3 separate regions of the Homo sapiens genome follow, and regions 1 and 3 are each reported to be linked to region 2. The links are microRNA targets in miRTarBase. Many come from high-throughput screens and were not tested one by one. Region 2 holds a microRNA gene; each other region holds the end of a gene's coding sequence.
The links. The annotated mature microRNA hsa-miR-4783-3p reads CCCCGGUGUUGGGGCGCGUCUGC and lies in region 2 at 2,161-2,183, shown strand. An mRNA with a match to its seed (bases 2 to 7 or 8) in the 3' UTR can be bound and repressed. Matches are read on the target gene's strand: a 7mer-m8 pairs with bases 2 to 8, a 7mer-A1 pairs with bases 2 to 7 and ends in A, and an 8mer does both.

Region 1 (11,113 bases), not on the chromosome of region 2:
GAGTACACCGGGGACTAGTGGCAGCTTCTGCGACAGGGATGGTGAGCACCCAAGGCAGACTGGGCGCGCACCATAAACACCCCACTTGTTAACTGCGCGGGGCCCAAGGGCCCTTCTAAGGGACCCCGGTATGGGGCTCACGTCCGGGTAGGGGCGGGGCGAGCCCAATGGCCAGGCCCCCCACCAGCCACGTTGGGGCAGCCCCCACAGCTCCCGGCCTTCGGGCCAAGGTGTCGGGGTGCGTCTCCTGGCCCATCAATACAGATTACATATTTATATCAATCGCGGGCTCTGAGGGCGCCCTCGGAGAGCGGCCCCGCGCCTACGAAACCAAACTGGGAGTGGTCGCGCGGAAACTCTGGCTCGGGATTGGCTGCGGGCGCCCGCCGCGGTGCGGGGGGATTGCTAATCGTATTCAGCATGTTTTGCACAAGAAATGTCAGCCAGAAAGGGCTATCTGCTCCCTTCGCCAAATTATCCCACAACAATGTCATGCTCGGAGAGCCCCGCCGCGAACTCTTTTTTGGTCGACTCGCTCATCAGCTCGGGCAGAGGCGAGGCAGGCGGCGGTGGTGGTGGCGCGGGGGGCGGCGGCGGTGGCGGTTACTACGCCCACGGCGGGGTCTACCTGCCGCCCGCCGCCGACCTGCCCTACGGGCTGCAGAGCTGCGGGCTCTTCCCCACGCTGGGCGGCAAGCGCAATGAGGCAGCGTCGCCGGGCAGCGGTGGCGGTGGCGGGGGTCTAGGTCCCGGGGCGCACGGCTACGGGCCCTCGCCCATAGACCTGTGGCTAGACGCGCCCCGGTCTTGCCGGATGGAGCCGCCTGACGGGCCGCCGCCGCCGCCCCAGCAGCAGCCGCCGCCCCCGCCGCAACCACCCCAGCCAGCGCCGCAGGCCACCTCGTGCTCTTTCGCGCAGAACATCAAAGAAGAGAGCTCCTACTGCCTCTACGACTCGGCGGACAAATGCCCCAAAGTCTCGGCCACCGCCGCCGAACTGGCTCCCTTCCCGCGGGGCCCGCCGCCCGACGGCTGCGCCCTGGGCACCTCCAGCGGGGTGCCAGTGCCTGGCTACTTCCGCCTTTCTCAGGCCTACGGCACCGCCAAGGGCTATGGCAGCGGCGGCGGCGGCGCGCAGCAACTCGGGGCTGGCCCGTTCCCCGCGCAGCCCCCGGGGCGCGGTTTCGATCTCCCGCCCGCGCTAGCCTCCGGCTCGGCCGATGCGGCCCGGAAGGAGCGAGCCCTCGATTCGCCGCCGCCCCCCACGCTGGCTTGCGGCAGCGGCGGGGGCTCGCAGGGCGACGAGGAGGCGCACGCGTCGTCCTCGGCCGCGGAGGAGCTCTCCCCGGCCCCTTCCGAGAGCAGCAAAGCCTCGCCGGAGAAGGATTCCCTGGGTAAGCAGGGCTGCAGAGGGCTGCAGTCAGGCGGGCAGACAGGCAGACACAAGGAGGAGAAGGATCAGAAAACTAGGAGCCCGCGCAGCAGCCGGCCGGCCTTGGCCCAAGCTGCAGGCAGGCTGACCTTGTGAACTTGCTTTTTAATATTTGGGCGTGGGGACGCAGTAAAATTCATGTCCGGCTTAGCGCCCCACAGCAAGACGTCCTCGGCGCTGGCCTCAGCTCCCCCTGACTAGGGACGAGGACACCAGCGAGCAGGCCCCCTCCTGTGCGCTCTTTCCTGTGGCCGGGAGGACCCAGAGCCCTGGTCCCTGCCCAGCCTGCGCGGCGCGGCCCACGCGGGGGGAGGGGGAGGGAGGGAAAGTAGCTCGCCCGCAGATAGCGCGGATGTTTGTAAGGCATCCAAAATAAGCAGCCGCCAGCGCCAATAAATAAGCCCATTAACCGGCGAAGTTCGAGTTTACGATCCCCCATGCTTTTTTCAAAGTTGCTGAGGGGCGGGAATCTTCGTTGCGGGAAGAAGAAAAGGCAAATCCGGCCTGGAAGCGGGGGGCCCTGAGCTGAGAGCCAGAGAAGGGCCATTTCCCTTCCCCTGGACCTCGGAATCGCCCAGCTATCTATCCCTGGCTCCTGGAGAAACTTGAGGGAGGGCCCTTGACCCCCGAATCGGTTTTTCCTGCCTTCCCCATTGGACCAATGATGCCCTTCTTTCTCCCCTTATCGAGTCTTGGGCAATCAGGGCCCTGGGGTGAGACAGCCAAGCTGCCTGGCCCATCTTCCAAGTAAGCACCCCGCGCTCCTAGCCTGGGGGCTACAGGAAATGCTTGTCTGCCATATGGCAAGAGGCAAAGAAAAGCGTTAAGTTCAAGATGTACAGCCTGCCCTCCCAGGCCTTTCCTTCTGCAAGCATCTACGGCTTAGCGCTAAAACAGGTGTTTGGAAAAGTGGGGGAAATGTAAATTGGAAGGGTCATGTAGATTGAAGGCCCACTCAATTTTTGTCATGACTTTTGGAGGAACTGCTTGCTCTCAGCAAGCCAAAAACGGGGGCACGACTCTCTTCTCTGTGACTTGGGACATCTCTCTTATGGGAGAAACGGAGGCAATTCACCCCCGCGGGCAGCCCGTGTGGCCTCGACTTAATCATCCCCTCTTTATTCTCTTACATGCCAGGCAATTCCAAAGGTGAAAACGCAGCCAACTGGCTCACGGCAAAGAGTGGTCGGAAGAAGCGCTGCCCCTACACGAAGCACCAGACACTGGAGCTGGAGAAGGAGTTTCTGTTCAATATGTACCTTACTCGAGAGCGGCGCCTAGAGATTAGCCGCAGCGTCCACCTCACGGACAGACAAGTGAAAATCTGGTTTCAGAACCGCAGGATGAAACTGAAGAAAATGAATCGAGAAAACCGGATCCGGGAGCTCACAGCCAACTTTAATTTTTCCTGATGAATCTCCAGGCGACGCGGTTTTTTCACTTCCCGAGCGCTGGTCCCCTCCCTCTGTCTTCAGGCTCTGCCCAGGAACTCGCACCTGTGCTGGAGCCCTGTTCCTCCCTCCCACACTCGCCATCTCCTGGGCCGTTACATCTGTGCAGGGCTGGTTTGTTCTGACTTTTTGTTTCTTTGTGTTTGCTTGGTGCTGGTTTATTTGTTGTTTTCTGGGGGAAAAAGCCATATCATGCTAAAATTCTATAGAGATAGATATTGTCCTAAGTGTCAAGTCCTGACTGGGCTGGGTTTGCTGTCTTGGGGTCCCACTGCTCGAAATGGCCCCTGTCTTCGGCCGAGCTGGTTTCCTGCCCAGCCTGGGGCAAACCTAGCCGGAAGGCCGAGGTCCCATTGTTGGCGCTGAGGTGTCTGGCCTGAGGTCAATGGTGCAAAGGAGCCGCCACCGGGCATGTCTGCCTGGAGTGCTGTGCTGTGTTTAATCAGGGGATACAGGCCCCTGGGTTTCTTTTTTCTTTCTTCCTTTCTTCCTTGGCCAAGAGAAGGGCTTACAGGCATGGACATGCAGGTTGGCAAACGGGCTTGACTTTGGCTGATTTAAAAAGTGAGAAAGAAAGTAAAAAAGGTTAATTTTTCCTTCCTCTGTAAGATATCCCAGCTTTAAAAAGAAAAAAAAAGAATTACCAAGAGAAGGGGACTTCTCTTCCAGTTTCTGTAAGGTCTTACATTGCCTGACTAAAATGTTTCATTTACCTCTAAATTTCCATATCCTTCTGGCTGTAGATAAATAATGTAGTTTTGTTTATGCATTTGGAATTAGTGGATTTTTTTGTCATTAAAATTGTTACCACTGGTAACATGTGACAAGCACACCACAATTCTCCCTATCTTGTGAAGTTGTTTTTTTAAATCGCCTTGAACAAAAAGTTTTTTTTTTGTTTGTTTTTGCTTTCTGAAATTCACAGAAGCCTAGGAGGACTGGGGTAAGCGGAATAAACTAGAGAAGGGAGACATTGTTTGGATTTCCTTTATACTGTGAAGTTACATGCATAAAAGGGTCAAACCTGTAGATGCAGAAAAAGAAAAAAACTATAAATACAAATCTGTATAAATGTCTATTATTATGAAGAATTGCCAATCTTGTTTTAAGCAAATGCATTCTATCGTTATTATAAATGTTAGTTCTAGCTCTATTTACTTCTAATCTTAAATCAGAATAAATTAATATTGTATTGCTGCTGTGCGTGGAAAAAGACGATGTTTATGTTCTTATAGAATAAAAGCTGTGGAATGAAGCTTTTTAATTTTACCTCTTTTTTGACTTCTTATCTTCACCTTCCACTTTATCCCGTTCACCACTTTTACAACAGGAGGACTAACCCGAGCCCCTGCAATTACTTTAGGCATCTATTTAAATATTACCTAGACGGTCGTAATTTGTCTGGGCCCTATAGCCCTGGTGCCGTAAGGTTTGTCGGCTTTTGTTCAGTTTTATGGCTTGCTAGTATATCTGGATTGTGGCTGTCTTGGACCAGTGATTTCAGTTGAGAGGGGAGCTACATAGACAGAGGAAGCCAAACAGGATTTCTTTCGGGAGCCCCAGGGAGGCTTGCAGAGGCCGGTTATTTTGCGGGTGTCTGGGTCACAGATGACCCTCAATCTGAATCGGGGAGCAGGCCTGGCCCACAGCGCATCTCTAGCCGCTGGAGGCAGCGGTTAGGTGGACCCGGGCTGGACTGCATGGGGGCCTCCCCCTCCCCCAGTACGGCCTCCCCCACCTGGCGGCACTCCTTAGGGCCACGCGTTTCCTGCTTGCCAGAGTGGGGGGGGCGGGGGCTAAGGGGAGGGGGCGCAGGAGCGCGCGCCCCGGCGGGCGGGCAGCTAGGAGGGAGAGGGGGAGAGCGAGAGGCGGGAGGCCGGGGCCAGACAGGGAGCCGGGATCTGTACCGTCCCTGGCGCTTTCGAGCCTTCCACGGCTACCGCCTCTTGGCGCCGGCTCGCTGGGCTGCAAGATTTGGGAAAGCGGCGCGCACACTGCTTCTCGGAGCTGCTCTCGTCTCGCCTGCTCCCCGCCTTTATTCCTCTCTCCCTGCCTTTCCTCCCTCTCTTTTCCTCCCTCTCCCTCCCAGGAATACCTTACTGGGGCCTGTGGCTTCCCCTTCCTTGACGCATTTGCGGCCGCCTGGGGCACTCTGTTGCACTGGCGGGCGCAGGTTGCCTAGGGGCTGGGCTGGGCCGGGCCAGGCGCGATGGCAGGGTTCTCTCCTTGGCGGCGGCGGCAGCGGCGGAGGCGGCGGCGGCGGCGGGCGAGGCAGCCCTTCGCGGGCAGCACCAGAACTGGTCGGTGATTTAGGTAGTTTCCTGTTGTTGGGATCCACCTTTCTCTCGACAGCACGACACTGCCTTCATTACTTCAGTTGAAATCGTCTCCAGGTACCTCTGCGCGCGGGGGTCGGGCCGGGCGGGGCATCACGGCCCTGGTCGTGCCAGGCCTGCGGTGGCAACCTCGGCTTTCCCTGCTCAGGAGCCTCGTGTCTTTCTCCGCAGCGCTTTGCCAGCCGGCCGGCTTTCCCCTTCCACCACACACCTCCACCTGGTCACAGCAGGTAGGGTTAGGTTGGCTGCTCCTTCGCGGACGCCGGGGGCGTGGTAGGAATTCTGGGCTTTGGGCCATTCAAGGTCAGGGGCGCCCGCTTCCATCCTGAGCCTCCCACTGGAGGCCTGCGCCTGCCCAGGGACCTCCTGCCATTCTCTTGTAAGGCTGGAACACACACACACACACACACACACACACACACACACACACCAGTCCCGGGTGTGAGCTCAGGAAAGAACCTCCTTCCAGTGGAGACTCAGGCTGGACTAGGAAGGATAGGGCAGGCTGGGATCCTGGCCTTGTCACTTACCCTTCTCTCTGTAAGCTCGGCCGCTGCTAGGAGTCGCCTCTCTTTTCTTCCTTCTTTTCCCTGTCTTCCCTTCCTCTTTTATCTCTTCTTTCTTTTTTTCTTCTTTCCTTTGCTCCTTCCTGCTTTCTTTTCTTCCGTTGGTCTTTTTTTCATCTTCCGTCTCTGCCAGATTCTATCTCACCTCCTTATCTCCTTCCCAAAGCATCCTTGGGGAGGGGCCCAGAGCTGGCTTCAGGAGAGCCTAGGGGGTCTCACTTTCCTCTGCGGCTCAAGTAGAGGTTGGGAAGTCTGCCGAGGAAGGGCCCGCGTGGGGCGGCTGCCGAGGGCGGTGGGTTTGGGCCTGGTGTGTTACTCTGCAGACAAGGCCTCGGTTATGATCACGACCGGATGGCGGCAGCCTTGCGTTTCTTCGCCTGTCGCTAACGGCTGACTAGGAGATCTGATTAGGGGACATTCGCTGCAGCTTTGTGTGCCCATATCGAGGGCAGGGAGGCCTTCGCCAGCCTCACTGGGGACTGGAGCTGAGGCCCAACCAGCCTCGCTGGAGCCTGGCCATTCGCTGGGAAGCTCTTAGCTGGCTCTTCCCGGCCTGCCGGTCACAGCTTGGGGTTTGACCGCATTGAGGGAGACTGGCTAGGGCAAAGCTTGACTGCTTGCTTACTAGTGGCTTCCATTAGGTACAAAATATGTTCCATACAGCACCTTTGTGCAGCTGGGTGCTGGAGAAGGGGACCCTTCCAAGAGCCAGTATGTTTTAAATGGGCAAAAAGAATCCCAAATTCCAGAGCCATTGATATAAACTTGAGTCATCGTTCCAAATTGTAGTCTACAGATGGGAGCCAGTCTGACCATTTTCCCTACAGAAAACAGAAAACAAACTATCTCTCCCTACTCCCAACACACACAGTTACAGATTCGTGCCCACAAAGCTGTTTCCTTTCCCTGCCTGGACTGGAGGCCCAGGAACTCTTTCGTTGCACAGCCACCGACCTGCTGTCTGAAAGGACCACACACCCCATTCCCTTCAACTCCTCCCTGCCATTTTCTGGACCAGGGCATTGGATTTATTTCAGAGATCACAGTTTCAGAAATCTCAGTCGAGAAGGGGCCGCTTTAAATTATACTCATTTATTATTTCTTTATGCATACGCAATCTCTTTCACTTCGAAAATAAAAGCAGACAAAAAAGTCAGACTATTCTGGCTCCAAACCTTTGGGCTGAAGGAAGACAATATTTGGTTTTCTGATTTTTCTCCGCTTTCTAGGCACCAGTAACATCTGCTTAACACTCAACGCCTGCTAATTGTTCAGTAACTCTCTTATTTTGGGGCTAAGGCTGTTTAAAGGAACAGCTTTTTTACTTAAAAAATACTGAAATAATCAGTGTCTTCTCAGGCATAAAACGTGGAAAAGGCATCCAGACATGCCCAGCCCATTTGCAGACACTTAAAATTGGGAGCCAGGGTTTCCTCCAGGGTTAATTTTTTAAATGAAAATCTCAGAGGCCTGGCGGACTGCGGGGTATTTAGGACACGGTGGACTGTGGTGGGGGTGGGCATGACCTAGAGGAATTTATGGGGCAAGGAAAATATTAGGGGGAGGGAGATGAGGCGGACAGGACGGGGCCATTTCGGAGTTCATTGTGTCGGCCACTTCCCTCTTCCAGGCGCGGGTGCAGGAAGGGGCACCCAGTCGGTATCCGCGCGGCTTGGCAGCCTCGCTGGTATTTGGGAGTCCCAGCCGGAAGTGTGTCAGGGTGTTTGAGGGGGGGATTACTGGAACTGCTGGTGAGGATGAAGGCAAAAGAGAGAGAGAGAGATGGAAGCGCCCGAGGCCGCCAGCCTCGCCGCCAGGGAAGTGGGCTAATGAAAAACACACTGTTGCAGGCACAGTATCCACACGTGAATTTGATTACCCCTGTTCTAGGAGTCGCTGCTTTCTGTTAGGAATTGGGGGCAGGGGGAGTTTCCTTCCAATTAACGGAGTGGCGGCGACCTTTTAATTTACCCCCAACGGGTGAGAAATAAACTTCCCCAACGTGGCCAGGCCCAGGAATGGGACTGGAGTCGATGCCCTTTTACCCCTCCCCGTTCTAATTTCCAGCCCTGGCCTTGAGCTGTGGCTGCCTCTCTTTGGGCCTTGTACCTCTCCGCCGAGTCTCCGGGCCCCGTAGGTAACCAAGGCGAGGCCCGGAGTAGCAGCTGGAAAGGGAGGAAGGAGCCCTGAAAGGCTCACGCGGCCCCGGGACAGGCCACATCGGTGCGGGCCTCCCAGGTTCCGGAGCTGCGGGGTCTCTTAGGCGAGGCTGCCTTTTCCCAAACCGAACTTGCCTTCCATTCATGCCACTTGTAGTTTTTTCCCCAGCTGGGATTCACGGAGCGCAACCAGGCTTGCAGCGCTCATGGTTAGAGCCTCTGAGGCTGGAGCACAGGGCTGGGTCGCCAGCCGCCTGCGCCTGGGAATCCTGATTGCCAGCTGATGAGAAAGGCGGGCTGGGCGCGCGTGTGCGTGGGGTCGAGGGCCGGGGACCGAGCGCGCCGCACAACCAACCAGGCCCTCAAAACCTTCGCCCTGGTGGCGGCTGGCCGCTCCCTCCTGGCCAGCTCCTCCGTGGGGTCCTCGTAGCAAAGGCGAATTTAAGGGTTGCCCGGGCGCCCCTCGCTCCAGGCGGGTAGCTGTGGGGACCTACACCCGCGGTACTCCCTGAGCGGCCGGTCCCTGCCTGGAGTGCCCTGGTAGGGCCGGCGGCGGCTCCGTTTGGGACGGATCCTGCGTTGAATTTGACTTTTCGAGGGCGGCCGCGGGTAAACTCGCCTCTCCCGGGGACCGCAGGGATTATTTACAGGGAGCTCGCCAACCAAACACAACAGTCTAACCTTTCCAAGTCCTCGTAAATTTTTACAGCTGGGAGCCACGGCGAGGCAAACGAATCTGTTGGTCGTTTCCGACTTCCCGCCAGCCTGTGTGGCTTCTGAAACAATAACTCCTTATGAAATATCATAAATATAGATTTAAATACAGTAGAGCGACAATGCGATTTGGCTGCTTTTTTATGGCTTCAATTATTGTCTAATTTTATGTGAGGGGCTCCGCTGGCCGCACTCGCACGCGGGACCCGCGCCTTCTTGATGGCGTGATTAATTGTGATATAAAATAGTCCGCTTAAGAAGTGTGTGTATGGGGGGGGAGACGGGAGAGTACAGAGACAAGGCTAGATTTGATCTTTTAATCGTCGTTGGCCACAATTAAAACAAACCCCATCGTAGAGCGGCACGATCCCTTTACATAAAAACATATGGCTTTTGCTATAAAAATTATGACTGCAAAACATCGGACCATTAATAGCGTGCGGAGTGATTTACGCGTTATTGTTCTGCTGGACGGGCACGTGACGCGCACGGCCAATGGGGGCGCGGGCGCCGGCAACTTATTAGGTGACTGTACTTCCCCCCCGGTGCCACCAAGTTGTTACATGAAATCTGCAGTTTCATAATTTCCGTGGGTCGGGCCGGGCGGGCCAGGCGCTGGGCACGGTGATGGCCACCACTGGGGCCCTGGGCAACTACTACGTGGACTCGTTCCTGCTGGGCGCCGACGCCGCGGATGAGCTGAGCGTTGGCCGCTATGCGCCGGGGACCCTGGGCCAGCCTCCCCGGCAGGCGGCGACGCTGGCCGAGCACCCCGACTTCAGCCCGTGCAGCTTCCAGTCCAAGGCGACGGTGTTTGGCGCCTCGTGGAACCCAGTGCACGCGGCGGGCGCCAACGCTGTACCCGCTGCGGTGTACCACCACCATCACCACCACCCCTACGTGCACCCCCAGGCGCCCGTGGCGGCGGCGGCGCCGGACGGCAGGTACATGCGCTCCTGGCTGGAGCCCACGCCCGGTGCGCTCTCCTTCGCGGGCTTGCCCTCCAGCCGGCCTTATGGCATTAAACCTGAACCGCTGTCGGCCAGAAGGGGTGACTGTCCCACGCTTGACACTCACACTTTGTCCCTGACTGACTATGCTTGTGGTTCTCCTCCAGTTGATAGAGAAAAACAACCCAGCGAAGGCGCCTTCTCTGAAAACAATGCTGAGAATGAGAGCGGCGGAGACAAGCCCCCCATCGATCCCAGTAAGTGTCTCCTCCCTTCAAATCCGCCGCCGCCTCCACGCCGGCCTCCCGGATCTGCTGGCCCGCCAGGTTTCTCTCGAGCCTGCCTTCGTCCTCGCTGGAAGCCTCTCGAGTTGGGGCCAGGAGCCAGAAGTTGGTGTTTGGGACGCCTCAGATAGGGCCCCAAGTCTGGAGAGCAGTGAAGAGCGGCCCGCAGGGCTACGGGAGAGGAGGCGGCTGCTGCAGCGAGAGGGGGCGGGGCGGGCACTTCGGGACGAGCCAAGACTGGCCGCCCCTCTCCTTGGCTGCCCAGGCCCAGGACCGAGATACTTTGGGCCGTTCTTCGAAAGCAGTGCAGCCCAGAGAGCCTTTTGTACAACTAGATTGTCCGTGAGCGGCGGCAGCCAGGGCAGCCGGAGCTGGGACGCTGGGGGAGACGGCCGATTCCTTCCACTTCTTGCCTTCGGCCAGTGGCGGCGTAAATCCTGCCAAGATGAGGCTGCGGGCGACCCGGGCCACAAGGGTCCCCATGACAGATTATTCAAATAAGCCACAGACGTGATCAGCGGCCTTAGGGCGCCCTGACGGCTTGCCCAGCTCCGAAGGCCTTCCAGGAAGGTTAAATAAGGAGTGGGGGGCGTAGAGGGACAGGTTGGGAAAGAAAGACGAAGTCAGTGAACGGGACAGAGGAATCCTAATCTTGCTACAGAACACAAGGCAGCATGCTTTCCCTCTGCGTGGCAAGGAGACCTGTTTCCAAATTTCATTCTATACAGCGTTTTGAGAGTGGGAGGAAGGAGAAGGGGGACAAGAGGACAGAGTAGGAGAAAGGAAGGTCTCGGAGGGGAGGGCGAGCCAAAGTTTTACTGCGTGCAATTTTAAGTGACTGTCTGTGCGTCTGTCTGCCAGGGTTCCATTGTGTCCGAGGCCTGACTGCCTTTCCTAACCAGTTCAGCAGAGTTCTGCACTTCGGCCAGAGACCCCATGCAGGAGGCTCATTTGCCCCAGCGGGATGTGCGTCTTCTGCTCCTAAACCCAGTGTTTCTCTTCCCCGCAGATAACCCAGCAGCCAACTGGCTTCATGCGCGCTCCACTCGGAAAAAGCGGTGCCCCTATACAAAACACCAGACCCTGGAACTGGAGAAAGAGTTTCTGTTCAACATGTACCTCACCAGGGACCGCAGGTACGAGGTGGCTCGACTGCTCAACCTCACCGAGAGGCAGGTCAAGATCTGGTTCCAGAACCGCAGGATGAAAATGAAGAAAATC
Region 2 (5,886 bases):
GTCAGTCAACAAACAGTACCACCCAATGGCAAGAGTCAGGCCAGGCAGCATCGCCCACTGCCTGTGTCTCCTTACATAGGTGGTTAAACTTCTTAAAAGCTCATTGTACCCCAGGGCTGTTGGGGGTGATCCCTGGGATTAGTAAGGTCTCATAATGGGATGCTGCTGAGCTCCTCACAGAGGAAAGGAATTACAGGGAGAAGGAGGTGAGCATTCTTGGAGAGCTCCTACAATAGGCATGGCATGTTTGTGAGGCCTCCCTGCCAAGAAGAGAGCGCATACTCCATGGAGAACTGAGGGCTGAAAGGTCGGCCCGACTCTGCTCAAAATGGGCCTTGAATGCCCAGTCCAGATATCTAGACTTAAAAGAGCAATGGGACGTCGTCAGCAGGGGAGCTGCATCATAACAAAAGAATGGAAAGGGCACAACAGCAACAATTCCAGAAGCTGACAGCAGATGGATGGACACAGTAACTGACTTGGCAGACTGGAAAGCAAAAATCTCAGCCCGTGATGGGGGCGCCCAGAAGCTGAAGGACTGGACCACGGAACCATAGGAGGCTGTGGGGCTTCCAGGAAGGCAGTGCAGGTGGGAGGGCATGTTGAGAGTTTGTAAGAGAAACTGCGAAAGCCCTCCTCACTGACTTGACTCCCCTCTCCCTGCCTGCAGAAGGTGAACCAGAGGCTCTGACTAGGGACTTCAGGCCCCGCTTCAGGAAGGAGTGGTGCTCTTAGCTGACCACAGGGAGTCATGCAAATGTCCACAGCCTGCACAGGCACCAGCTCCCCTGCCCCACCCTGCTCTGAGGGGCCGAACACCATGGGTGAGCGTCTTCCATCCTCCAAGAGCTTGGAGGAGTCCTCTTAGAAAGCAGCCTAAAAGGAAAGCCCTCACGATCTGGGGTTCTGCCAATGACAGGGCCTTCCCAAGGCCTTGCAGGAAACCCACAGGCCAACAGGCCCACCAGGCATTTCTTTGCAGCTTCCTGGAAATATCTAATTATTTCAAAATAAAAAGTTAAATTTTTAGATCTTTTTTTACTTTTTTTAAAAATAGAGACAGGGTCTCACTGTGTTGCCCAGGCTAGTCTCAAACTCCCAAGCTCAAGCAATCCTCCCACCTCAGCCTCTCAAAGTGCTGGAATTATTGGTCTGAGCTACTGAGCCTGGCCAAAAATTTTTTTCTGCAGAAGAATTGAATTATAAAGTTGTAGAAAGTTCCCTGAAAGAGGCTGGGCGCGGTGGCTCACGCCTGTAATCCCAGCACTTTAGGAGGCCAAGGCAGGTGGATCACCTGAGGTCAGGAGTTCAAGACCAGCTTGACCAACACGGAGAAACCCCTTCTCTACTAAAAACACAAAATTAGCTGGGCGTGGTGGCGCATGCCTGTAATCCCAGCTACTCGGGAGGCTGCGGCAGGAGAATCGCTTGAATCCAGGAGGCGGAGGTTGTGGTGAGCTGAGATCACGTCATTGCACTCCAGCCTGGGACAACAAGAGTGAAACTCCATCTCAAAAAAAAAGAAAAAAAAGAAAGTTCCCTGAAAGAAAACACAAAGTCAAAGAGATGGGAAATAGAAGAGACAATAAAACTAGAGGAAAGAGGTCTGAATAATGGGAGGTCCAGAAAGAGAAAATAGAGGAAGTAAAGGGGAGATTGTAGAAGAAATAAGTGATAAATGTCCCTAGAGGCAGAAGATAGGAATTTCCACATTAAAAGGGTCCACCTTTTAATGAAAATGAATGAAAAAAGGACCCATGCCAAGGAACAGCATGCTGAAATGTAAAAGTTGTAAAACTCTGATTTTTAAAGTTTCATACATATATAAATTTGATTAAAATGCATAAAAAGGAAAATATAGAAGAAGGCAGAATCGGGATTCTGTTCTCTCCTCAAGGAAGCAAGGGGGTAAAGAGGGAAATGCGATGCACGCCGGACAACGTCAGAGAAAAACGCAGCCAGGCTACATGGAGGAGGACGCTGCACGCCTCGCCCCAGATACGCTCAGACTGGGGAGCGGAGCCACCACTGGGCTTGCGCTCCAGGAGGTGGCCCCAGGTGCGCAGGGGGCGCCCGGAGGAAGGCGGGGACGCCAGGAAGAAAGGAAGCAGGGAAAGCGGAGGGCGCGCCCAGCTCCCGGGCTGATTGCGCTAACAGTGGCCCCGGTGTTGGGGCGCGTCTGCCGCTGCCCCAAGGCTCAACTCTGTTCCTCGCTCCCTCCCTAGAAACCCTCCTGAGCCCCCCGCGCCGCGCCCCGTCAGGGGGCCTGCCCACCCTGCACCCAGCGTGATTCCTGGGCGATGTATTGGGGGCTTCTCACCTGCGGGGTGACACTGCAGGAGGTCGTCCCCCAGCTTGTAGCCAGGCGCACAGCTACAGCGCCGCCAGCCCACCTCCTCTAGGCAGTAATGCGTGCAGCCGCCGTTGTCCAGCGAGCAATTGAGGAAGCTCACCTCTGCGGGCAGGGGAGGGCGCGGGCAGCTGGTGCTGGTGCCGCGCCCCCAACCCGGCCCCAGCCCCGCCCCGCCGCCCGCCAGCATCCACCTCTCCCCCTCACCGCGCTGGCAGAAGCGGCCCTCCCAGCCGCTGCGGCAGTCGCAGCTGAAGCTGCCGATGCCGTCGATGCACGTGCCGTGCCCGCAGCACAGGCTGGCGCACGGGTGCTCCAAGGGCAAGACCAAGCACTGGTCACCGTCTGCGACACAAGGCGGGGTAGGGGGTCAGCGGCCAGAGATCCCGAGGGGCGCGGGCGCCGGTAGTCCAGCCGGGGATCTAGAACGCACTCACCGACGTGCTTGGACCAGAAGGCCAGCTGCGGAGAGAGCGGGCAGCGTCAGGCTCCTGCAGCCGGTGTGCGGAGGGGGCGCGCCCGGGTGGGGCAGGGCAGCGGGTGAGCGGGCAGGGGAGGGGAGGGCTTCCAGACAAACAGGGATCGACGCCCGATGGTCGTTGGCTGCTAGGAGCTGGTGCTCCCTGCCCCTCCCCCGCCCTCCAGCGCCACCCGCCCGCGCCCAGCCTCCATCCCACGTCCCTGGAGCAACACCCTCTCCCCATGCAGCTGCAGTGCTGCTCTCGCGACTGTCTGCTCCCACAGCAGCCTCTGGCATGCAAGGGACCCGAATCCCTCACCAAGTCACTCGGCCTCCTTCCAGTCCCATCACTCCCTCTGCCTGCGGGCTTTGGGGGACCCCTGAGCATCGCGCCTTTCCCTAAGCCAGTGTTTTTCAGAGTTGGGAGGATGGGGGCAGAGGGTCTGCGTTCCTAACCAGGTACCAGGGTTGCTGCTGCGGCGGCTGCTGCTGGTCCAGGACCACCCAGCCCACGTTGAGACCCACGGCCTGTGCCTGATGCCTGCTCCATCAGAGAGGCCAGCCAAGGCCTGCTGGGGCTGAGAGACCATGGGTGAGGTGGGAGCACGGTGGGGACTTGATGTGATCAGATATGTGCCTGCAGAAAGTCACTGTGGCGTCTGCCAGGGAGGCCACTGGGGAAAGAGGTGGTGGGGATGGAGGTCCAGATGGGGGTCCAGTCAAGGAGGTGGAGGCTGAGGGCAAGAGAGGGTGCAGGCCAGAGGGTCTCCTGCCCTGAAAGCCTCCACTGGAAAGCATCCCTGGATGCCTTGGAAGGGGGCCCAGGCCGTGCACAATTTTCAGGTCCTAGTGGCTGAAGCGATCCCCAGGGACAGAGCGGGTCTGAGCCTTGTCTCAGGAAGCCAGCCCCGTTACCAAGCTCACCCTACTACCTAGGGCCACGTCCACAGGACTCTGGGGGCTCCAAAGGACTCTGACCCTTAGACAAATAGGACACAGACCCTGTCTTCCGACCCCCTGAACAATCAGATTTTCTCCCTTTGATGTGAGGCACAGAGTGAGCGATTTTATGTGGACAGAAGTGAGTTTCGGTCACACACACACCCTGATCAGCAGAGGCATGGGTGGAAGCAGGGTGGTCTTTAGGTCCCCTCTTTGTGAGGTGGGACGGGGAGGCAGTGGTGCTCAGCAGTGGCTGGAGGGTGGACTGAACCACCTACACTGTGGCTGGTGGGAGTCCCCACCTAGGGTCACCCCACACTCTTTCCTGGAGCTTCTTCCTGAATTCTGTTTCTTGCAGTCACATGTGCCTGGCCGACATCATAGGGCCAGCATCCTAATCGCTCCACTCAGCCACCCCCACAACTCCTAAGAGGGCCTCAGCATTGAGTCCCCACCTGCTCCTCGAGGCCCCTGCTGGTTACCAGCTCGCCCCTGAGCCTCATCCTCTGGACCCATGGTGGCCTTACTGTGTCATCCACATTTTGGAAAATTTCCTTGGCCTCCTCGAAGTCACAGATCTCCTCTATGCACTCCCGCTCCAGGCTGCTGTGACGGAGCTCCTCCAGGAAGGAGTTGGCACGTTTGCGGATCCGCAGCACCTGGTGGGCACGCTCGCTGCTGGAGAACACTGAGTCTGGTTTTGGAGGGAGGGGGAGCTCACCTTGGTGGAGGGGCCTAAGAGGGGCTGGGGCCATGAGGGGGTCTGAGGAAGCAGAGCTGGGAGAGCCTGGGAAGGTCTTGTCTCCGCCCCCTCAAGACTCATTCTAATTCTAGGTCATGGCTTGGCGCAGGGGTCCTCTGCTCTTTTCCTCCCCAGGAAGCAGATGGCAGTTGGAGGACGAAGCCTTGCTCTGAGATGGACAGGCCTCCCTGTGAACCCCACCCCGATCTCTGTGTGACCTTGAGCCAGTGTCTTTACCTTTCTAAGGTTCAATTTACTCATCCAAAAACATGGGGATGAGACCGTCATGTAAAACATCCAATACAGTCCCTGGCCCAGAGATAAGTACTCAAGCCCTGGCTGCTGCTGTAAAGGCTGCCAAGTTAAATCCTCTCACTCTTCTGCCAGTACACCACGTGCAGCCCCATCTTGACACATCCCCCCAGTCTTCCTCTCCTCCCCCAACCAAGTATTCCCCATGCTTCTCCCCTTGGGCAGGGACACCTGGAGGATAGACAGACCTATCACCCAGGAAGGGTCCCCAGGTGTCTCCTGGGCTCTGTGAAGTGTCTGTCTTGGGTGCAGGGCACAGTTAGGAGGGAGAGATCAAGTTGGGGGTGTGAGCAAGAAGGGATGGGGGAAAAGGCATCCTAGAGGAGGGTATGCCTGAGCTGAGGGCACCTTGGGAAAGGGTGGAGGTGCAGGTCCCAAGCAGATAAACAGCTCTATAAAGGCACAAATGAAACCAACAGCCTGGTGTGGCTTTAGGGGCCCATGTGTCCTGCGGACCTCCCCAAGAATCATGGCCTCCTCCCGTTGGCTGTGGAGACCAGGAAAGGGGTTGGGGCAGGGCAGCCATGAGGCCAGTGTGCATTTGAGTAGGGGAGGCTGTGCTGGATAGTGTGGACGGTAGCCTGGGCCTGGGGTCTTCACAGTTGAGGGAGTGAGTGGGTGGAGAGGGAAGGCCCAGGGGACTCTGTGACCATCCCCGTGTGGAGGAGGGAGCTTTAGGAGGTCATCGCGGGGCTCCCTGCCATCACGCATGCCTGCCCTGGCAGCCCCTGTGTGGCACTCTGGCAGCTGGCCTACCTGGGACTTGTCAGTTGATTCCTGCCATTCCCATCTGCCCCTCACCTCACCCAGGGCTCAGAGAGATGGTGGAAGCTGTGAAGGCCTGGGCAGATGCCCACCAGGGCCTTGTAGAGGCCACAAGGGTCCCGGGGTAGGGGTGGGGTGGCCTTACCAAGAGGAGCTGGTGTGCCGGAAATTCCCCAGGTGGCCACGAACAGCAGGAGGCTTGTGAGCTGCCACATTCTGGAGGCACTGGCACCTGTCTGAGGAGGACTTCTGAGCTCCGGGCAGTGCCTACCCCCGCTGCTGCTCTGCCTGCACCCCCAGGTGGAAGCGGAATGA
Region 3 (5,000 bases), not on the chromosome of region 2:
CACCCTACCGGACACCAGAGTAAGGAGGAGCTGGGCCGCGCCATGCAAGTGGCCAAGGTCTCCACCGCCTCTGTGGGGCGCTTTCAGGAGCGCCTCCCCAAGGAGAAGGTGCCCCGGGGCTCCGGCAAGAAAAGGAAGTTTCAACCCCTTTTCGGGGACTTTGCAGCCGAGAAAAAGAACCAGTTGGAGCTGCTTCGTGTCATGAACAGCAAGAAGCCTCAGCTGGATGTGACTAGGGCCACCAATAAGCAGATGAGGGAGGAGGACCAGGAGGAGGCCGCCAAGAGGAGGAAAATGAGCCAGAAGGGCAAGAGAAAGGGAGGCCGGCAGGGGCCTGGGGGCAAGAGGAAAGGGGGCCCGCCCAGCCAGGGAGGGAAGAGGAAAGGGGGCTTGGGAGGCAAGATGAATTCTGGGCCGCCTGGCTTGGGTGGCAAGAGAAAAGGAGGACAGCGCCCAGGAGGAAAGAGGAGGAAGTAATAGTTTCTAACTGTCGGACCCGTCTGTAAACCAAGGACTATGAATACTAAATGTTAAGTTCTAGGCAATTATACGGGGACTCAGAAGGACCTGGCCGCTGCCTTCATTGAGTTTAAAGGGACAGGATTGCCCTTCCGTCAAGAAAGTATGTAAGTGTTGGACTGCACAAATTAATGTTTTTCCCACAACCGAGACTTTGGAGATTAAGAACTTATTTGAGGATTTAAGAATTAGGGAAATAATTTGGTGGAAACCGGGAATGAGTTCTATTCTTAAACAGCCTTTTTTTTTCTTTTTAATGTTGGATATACGGCGAGGTAGAGTTGGCCATATTTCAGAGACTTAGATTGACGTATATGTTTCTGCATTATTTTTACAACAAGTTTGTGTATCAGAGCGGGAGTGCGGGGGAGGGAAAGAAAACAAACAGTTTCAGAATTGAATAGGCAAGTGACTGTTTTAAAGATTAAGTAATAAAGATGTCTTATCTAGTGTGACTTTTAACTTTCTGACTACTGGGTAGAAATTGTACTTGAAGCCGGTTACCTGGATACCTGGTACAGATTATTTTTGTTTACTTTCTGAAAAACACAAAGCAGGCCGTGCGCAGTGGCTCACTCCTGTAGAGTCCCAGTACTTTGGGAGGCCGGGGCGGGCGGATCACCTGAGGTCAGGAGTTCGCGACCAGCCTGGCCAACACAGTGAAACCCCATCTCTACTAAAAATAAAAAAATTAGCCAGACACGGTGGCTGGTACCTGTAGTCCCAGCTACTTGGGAGGCTGAGGCAGGAGTATCGTTTGAACCTGGGAGGCGGAGGTTGCAGTGAGCCCAGATCACGCCACTGCACTCCACTCCAGCCTGGGCAACAGAGGAAGGGGCCATCTCAAAAAAAAAAAGCAGTTCAATTATAATGGTTTCAGTGATACCACTTCTAAACTTATACTTCTTTTGGTATCAAATATAATATTCAAAGTAGTAAAACTGATGTCTGTTTTTTAAAAAGATTTTATGCCTTTCAACACTGAACACATGGATTTCCTGTAAATGATCAATTTGGGCTTCATTGACTAATGGTAATAATCCTCATTAATCCAGAAAACACTTAAATCTTTCTCTACGTTTATATCCCCAGTTGTTTGTGTGTGTGTGTTTGTTTTTAAGCTTGACGTCAGGTATAGTTTTGTTTGGGGGAAGAAAGAAACAGACCCATAAGATCCTTAATTAGGACATTATTATCTTTTTTTAAGTTCCGGAGTAGATGTGCAGGATGTGCATGTTTGTTACATAGGTAAACGTGTGCTGTGGTGGCTTGCTGCACCTATCAACCCATCACCTAAGTATTAAGTCCCTCTGCCCCCTTCTATCCCCTGCCCCCAGGCCCCAATGTGTGTTGTTCCCCTCCCTGTGTACATGTGTTCTCATAGAACATTATTTTTTGATTCATTTGTCAAGTTGGCCTGAGCTGGTTTGATTAGGAGGTGAAATGTTTATATAGCTGTCCTTGGTCTTCCTGTCCATCAATCTTTTCCAGTTTGATCGCAGTAAATTCATTTCTGTAAAACTTAATATCTCCCATAAAGGATTCAGATTTCATAATAACAGATTACTAAAAATGCAAATGTTTAGTTGTTACTGTCTTTGGATACTTTCTGATAAAGTTGAGCTTTATCGTTAATCAGCTTTTCCACTGGGACATGGCAGATATGGCACAGCCAAGCCCTCCCGGAGCATAGTCTAATCATGGCAAGTTTTAACTATTGATGTAAGAGTTTTAACTATTGATTTTGCTTTCATCAAAAGCAAAGCCATTCACACAGTATTTAACAAAAACCCTCGGGCTCTGCTAGGTTCTTGTTTACTGTTAAAACAGTTTAAAGGCAGGGTCTTGATCACTTAAAATACTCTTAGAAGGGAAAGTAACATTTTAAAGGATTAACAGTGGAAAAAGAATATCCCTGTTCCTCTTCCTTCCCCCAAGTCCTCAACATGTGAAAAATAGAGTTGATAAGTAAGGAGATTTAAGGCAGAACCCGAGGCCTACGGAGCAGTTACCTTCTACGGCAATTTCAAGGGTGGATGGTGCGAGCGCCGCTGGGGCAGCTGGCGTTCTGGTTCTTACTCCGTGGGAAAATGGCCCTGAGCCCGACTGGCTTGAGGCTTAGACAGGTGACCCCGCGAAGCGGGTGGGCAGGCGCGGCCGAGGGGCGGGAGGCGGGCAGCCTCCGTGATTGGCCGGCGGAGGGGGCGGTGTAGCGACCCGAGGAGGGAAGAGGACTCCAAGCGCCATGGCCGCTGCCGCCCGAGCCCGGGTCGCGTACTTGCTGAGGCAACTGCAACGCGCAGCGTGAGTGCGGGGCCGGCGGGCGGGCAGGGGACCGCAGGGTGCCCACGCAGCCCCCTGGGTGTGACCCGCTCAGATCCTGCGCAGTCTTCTCCGCTTACTTTCAAGAATTCGGAGAATTTGGATACCGCCCTGGGCTCCCACCGCGCGCCAGGCGGAACAGCGAGGTCACAGAGTGCGCGATGCAGCCTCTCAGGGCGCAGTGAGGCAGCCTTTACTCTGCTTGTCTACCGTTAAAGAAACTGAGGCCCAGAGAGGACCTGGTCCCACATCGTAGCAGGCAGTGGAGAGCTTGGCACGGTGGCCAAGACAAATTCATGTATGCAATTGACACATATTTATTGGGCATATATTATGTGCCAAAAACTATTCTAGGTTCTGGGGATACAAAGATGAAAGGCTCTGGAGCAGTTTGAGGTCTAGTGGGGAATGGGATGAGGGGACGAGGCTAAAACCGGCTATAGCAGACTGGGTGTAGAAGGGAAGGATGGATGTGAGAAGTCGCAGAGTCACACTTCCTGGCATGTACAGGGAGTCAGGGTATTCAATGTCATGACACGCCTGCCTCCCAGCAGAAATGTGAGGTACATCCTGGTCACCTGATAAATACTTGCTGACTGTGCAAGTGCACAAGTCTGCCTGGGAAACATGGAAAAGTTTGAGCTCACAGGTGCAGATCAGTAGGAGGAAAGGCGAGGGACTGGCGAGGAACGTCAGGCAGAGAGAAGAGCAACACCAGCGATGGAGATGCAGTCCCAGGACACAAAAGACAAGTAGACCTACCTTTATAAGAGGAGGTAAAGATGGAGAAGACGGCTGATAAAAGACCATGAATAAGAATATAGCTAATACGATGAGCCCGGCAGTGTCTTACACACTTTGAATGGACTATCAGTATAATAGTAACTCTAATCCTTTCACTGACCCTATGACACACGGTATTGTCATCCTCATAGATACGGAAATAAAGGCATGGAGAAGAATTTGTCCAGTGTCACACAGCTAAGCAAATGGCACAGTCATAATTTGAACCCAGATACTCTGGCTTCACAGTCCTTGTTCTTAGGCCTGTAGTAAGGAATTTGAATTGTGTGCTGTAGATAATGGAAAGCCATTGAATAATATTTGTCACCATTAAACACTGATACCTTAAAATGTCCCATGACAAAAGAATTACATGGCCAAATAAGTTTGAGAAGCTCCTTACTGCTGTATTGCCCTCTTGGAGAATCAAAATATACATTAGACATGCAGGGCTCCAAGAAGCTACAAAAAATACTAAAGCTGTGTTCAAATTTTTGGTTGTAAACCTGTGTCATCATAGAACTCTTTGTCACACAACACCATTTATATCCCATGGAATCAGTGTCACACACAGAATATGTTTTTGGAATGGTTGCATGAAAAGGGAGTATGGCATAATCAGAACTGTGTTAGCACATTCTGGTGGAAATGTGGAGTGAAGAGGAAGGACTAGAGGTCATTGTCCTGCTCCAGCCTGAAGATAATGGCTTCATGCACGGAGAGGCAGTTCCTTGGGTAGATAGAAATGCTGAGAGGTTGGTTAGAATCCACAGGATTTTGTATCTGAATAGTGAAGAGTTGAGATTTCTGGCTTGGGCATCAAGTAAACAGTGGGCTCATTTACCAAGGCAGGGATTGTAGGAGAGTTAGTGTTAGGAGGAAAATGGCAACTTCAGTCTAGGGCATTTTGAGTTGAGCATGCTTCTGGTACATTCAGATGGAGACCCCAGTAGGTGATTGAATGTATTGTTCTGGGGCTCAAGAGTGAGTTGGGAACACATCCATCCATGCGTATGGAGGACAGTTGAAGCCCTAACAAAACTCTAACCTAGAAGGAAACAGCTGAGGGTGAATTCCTGGGGAGCAGCACTGCCACAGCAGGAGTAGCAAGATGGTGCTTTCTTCTGCACATGCTTATTATTCTAATAGGGTAAACATTTTAAAAGTGGGAGATTTCCAATGAAAATCTTGGAAAATTGGAAAATGGCATCATTGGGCACATGTTTCATCTGGGCAAAGTGGGCTAGGGCACGGGGTGATGTGTGGCCATTTCTATTGGACAGAGCATGCACTCTGGGCTTCTGCCCAACACATTCCATAGAGCAACTGCGCTGACAACTGAATGGAGGGGAAAGAATCAGCACTGAAGGAGACAG

Region 1: miRTarBase lists HOXA10 as a target of hsa-miR-4783-3p. Seed matches in the 3' UTR shown: 7mer-m8 at 3,287-3,293.
Region 3: the mRNA of RRS1 is a reported target of hsa-miR-4783-3p. Seed matches in the 3' UTR shown: 7mer-A1 at 730-736.

The regions. Positions count from the first base shown.
Region 1 is chr7:27,163,630-27,174,742 of GRCh38, reverse strand. HOXA10 (homeobox A10) reads left to right here and starts at 423. Exons shown (of 2, transcript NM_018951.4): 1 at 423-1,394; 2 at 2,570-4,138. The coding sequence starts at 437. The coding sequence ends at 2,844. It overlaps HOXA10-HOXA9 (HOXA10-HOXA9 readthrough), which reads left to right. Exons shown (of 3, transcript NM_001433944.1): 2 at 9,776-9,865; 3 at 10,902-11,113. It overlaps HOXA10-AS (HOXA10 antisense RNA), which reads right to left and starts at 5,844. Exons shown (of 3, transcript NR_046609.1): 1 at 5,750-5,844; 2 at 4,979-5,436; 3 at 2,828-3,435. MIR196B (microRNA 196b) reads left to right here and starts at 5,180; the gene lies at 5,180-5,263. It also overlaps HOXA9. RefSeq lists enhancers at 1-368, 2,724-3,223, 4,978-5,568, 5,569-6,159, 7,349-8,067 and 3 more.
Region 2 is chr2:127,419,843-127,425,728 of GRCh38, reverse strand. MIR4783 (microRNA 4783) reads left to right here and starts at 2,111; the gene lies at 2,111-2,192. PROC (protein C, inactivator of coagulation factors Va and VIIIa) reads right to left here. Exons shown (of 9, transcript NM_000312.4): 2 at 5,717-5,807; 3 at 4,280-4,446; 4 at 2,788-2,812; 5 at 2,558-2,695; 6 at 2,321-2,455. The coding sequence starts at 5,786. LOC105373608 (a long non-coding RNA gene) reads left to right here. Exons shown (of 2, transcript XR_007087228.1): 2 at 1-1,029. RefSeq lists enhancers at 1,648-2,444, 2,445-3,243.
Region 3 is chr8:66,429,753-66,434,752 of GRCh38, forward strand. RRS1 (regulator of ribosome synthesis 1) reads left to right here. Exons shown (of 1, transcript NM_015169.4): 1 at 1-981. The coding sequence ends at 477. It overlaps ADHFE1 (alcohol dehydrogenase iron containing 1), which reads left to right and starts at 2,752. Exons shown (of 14, transcript NM_144650.3): 1 at 2,752-2,823. The coding sequence starts at 2,765. LOC102724687 (a long non-coding RNA gene) reads right to left here and starts at 2,614. Exons shown (of 5, transcript XR_929013.3): 1 at 2,532-2,614. RefSeq lists an enhancer at 780-829 and a silencer at 2,586-3,005.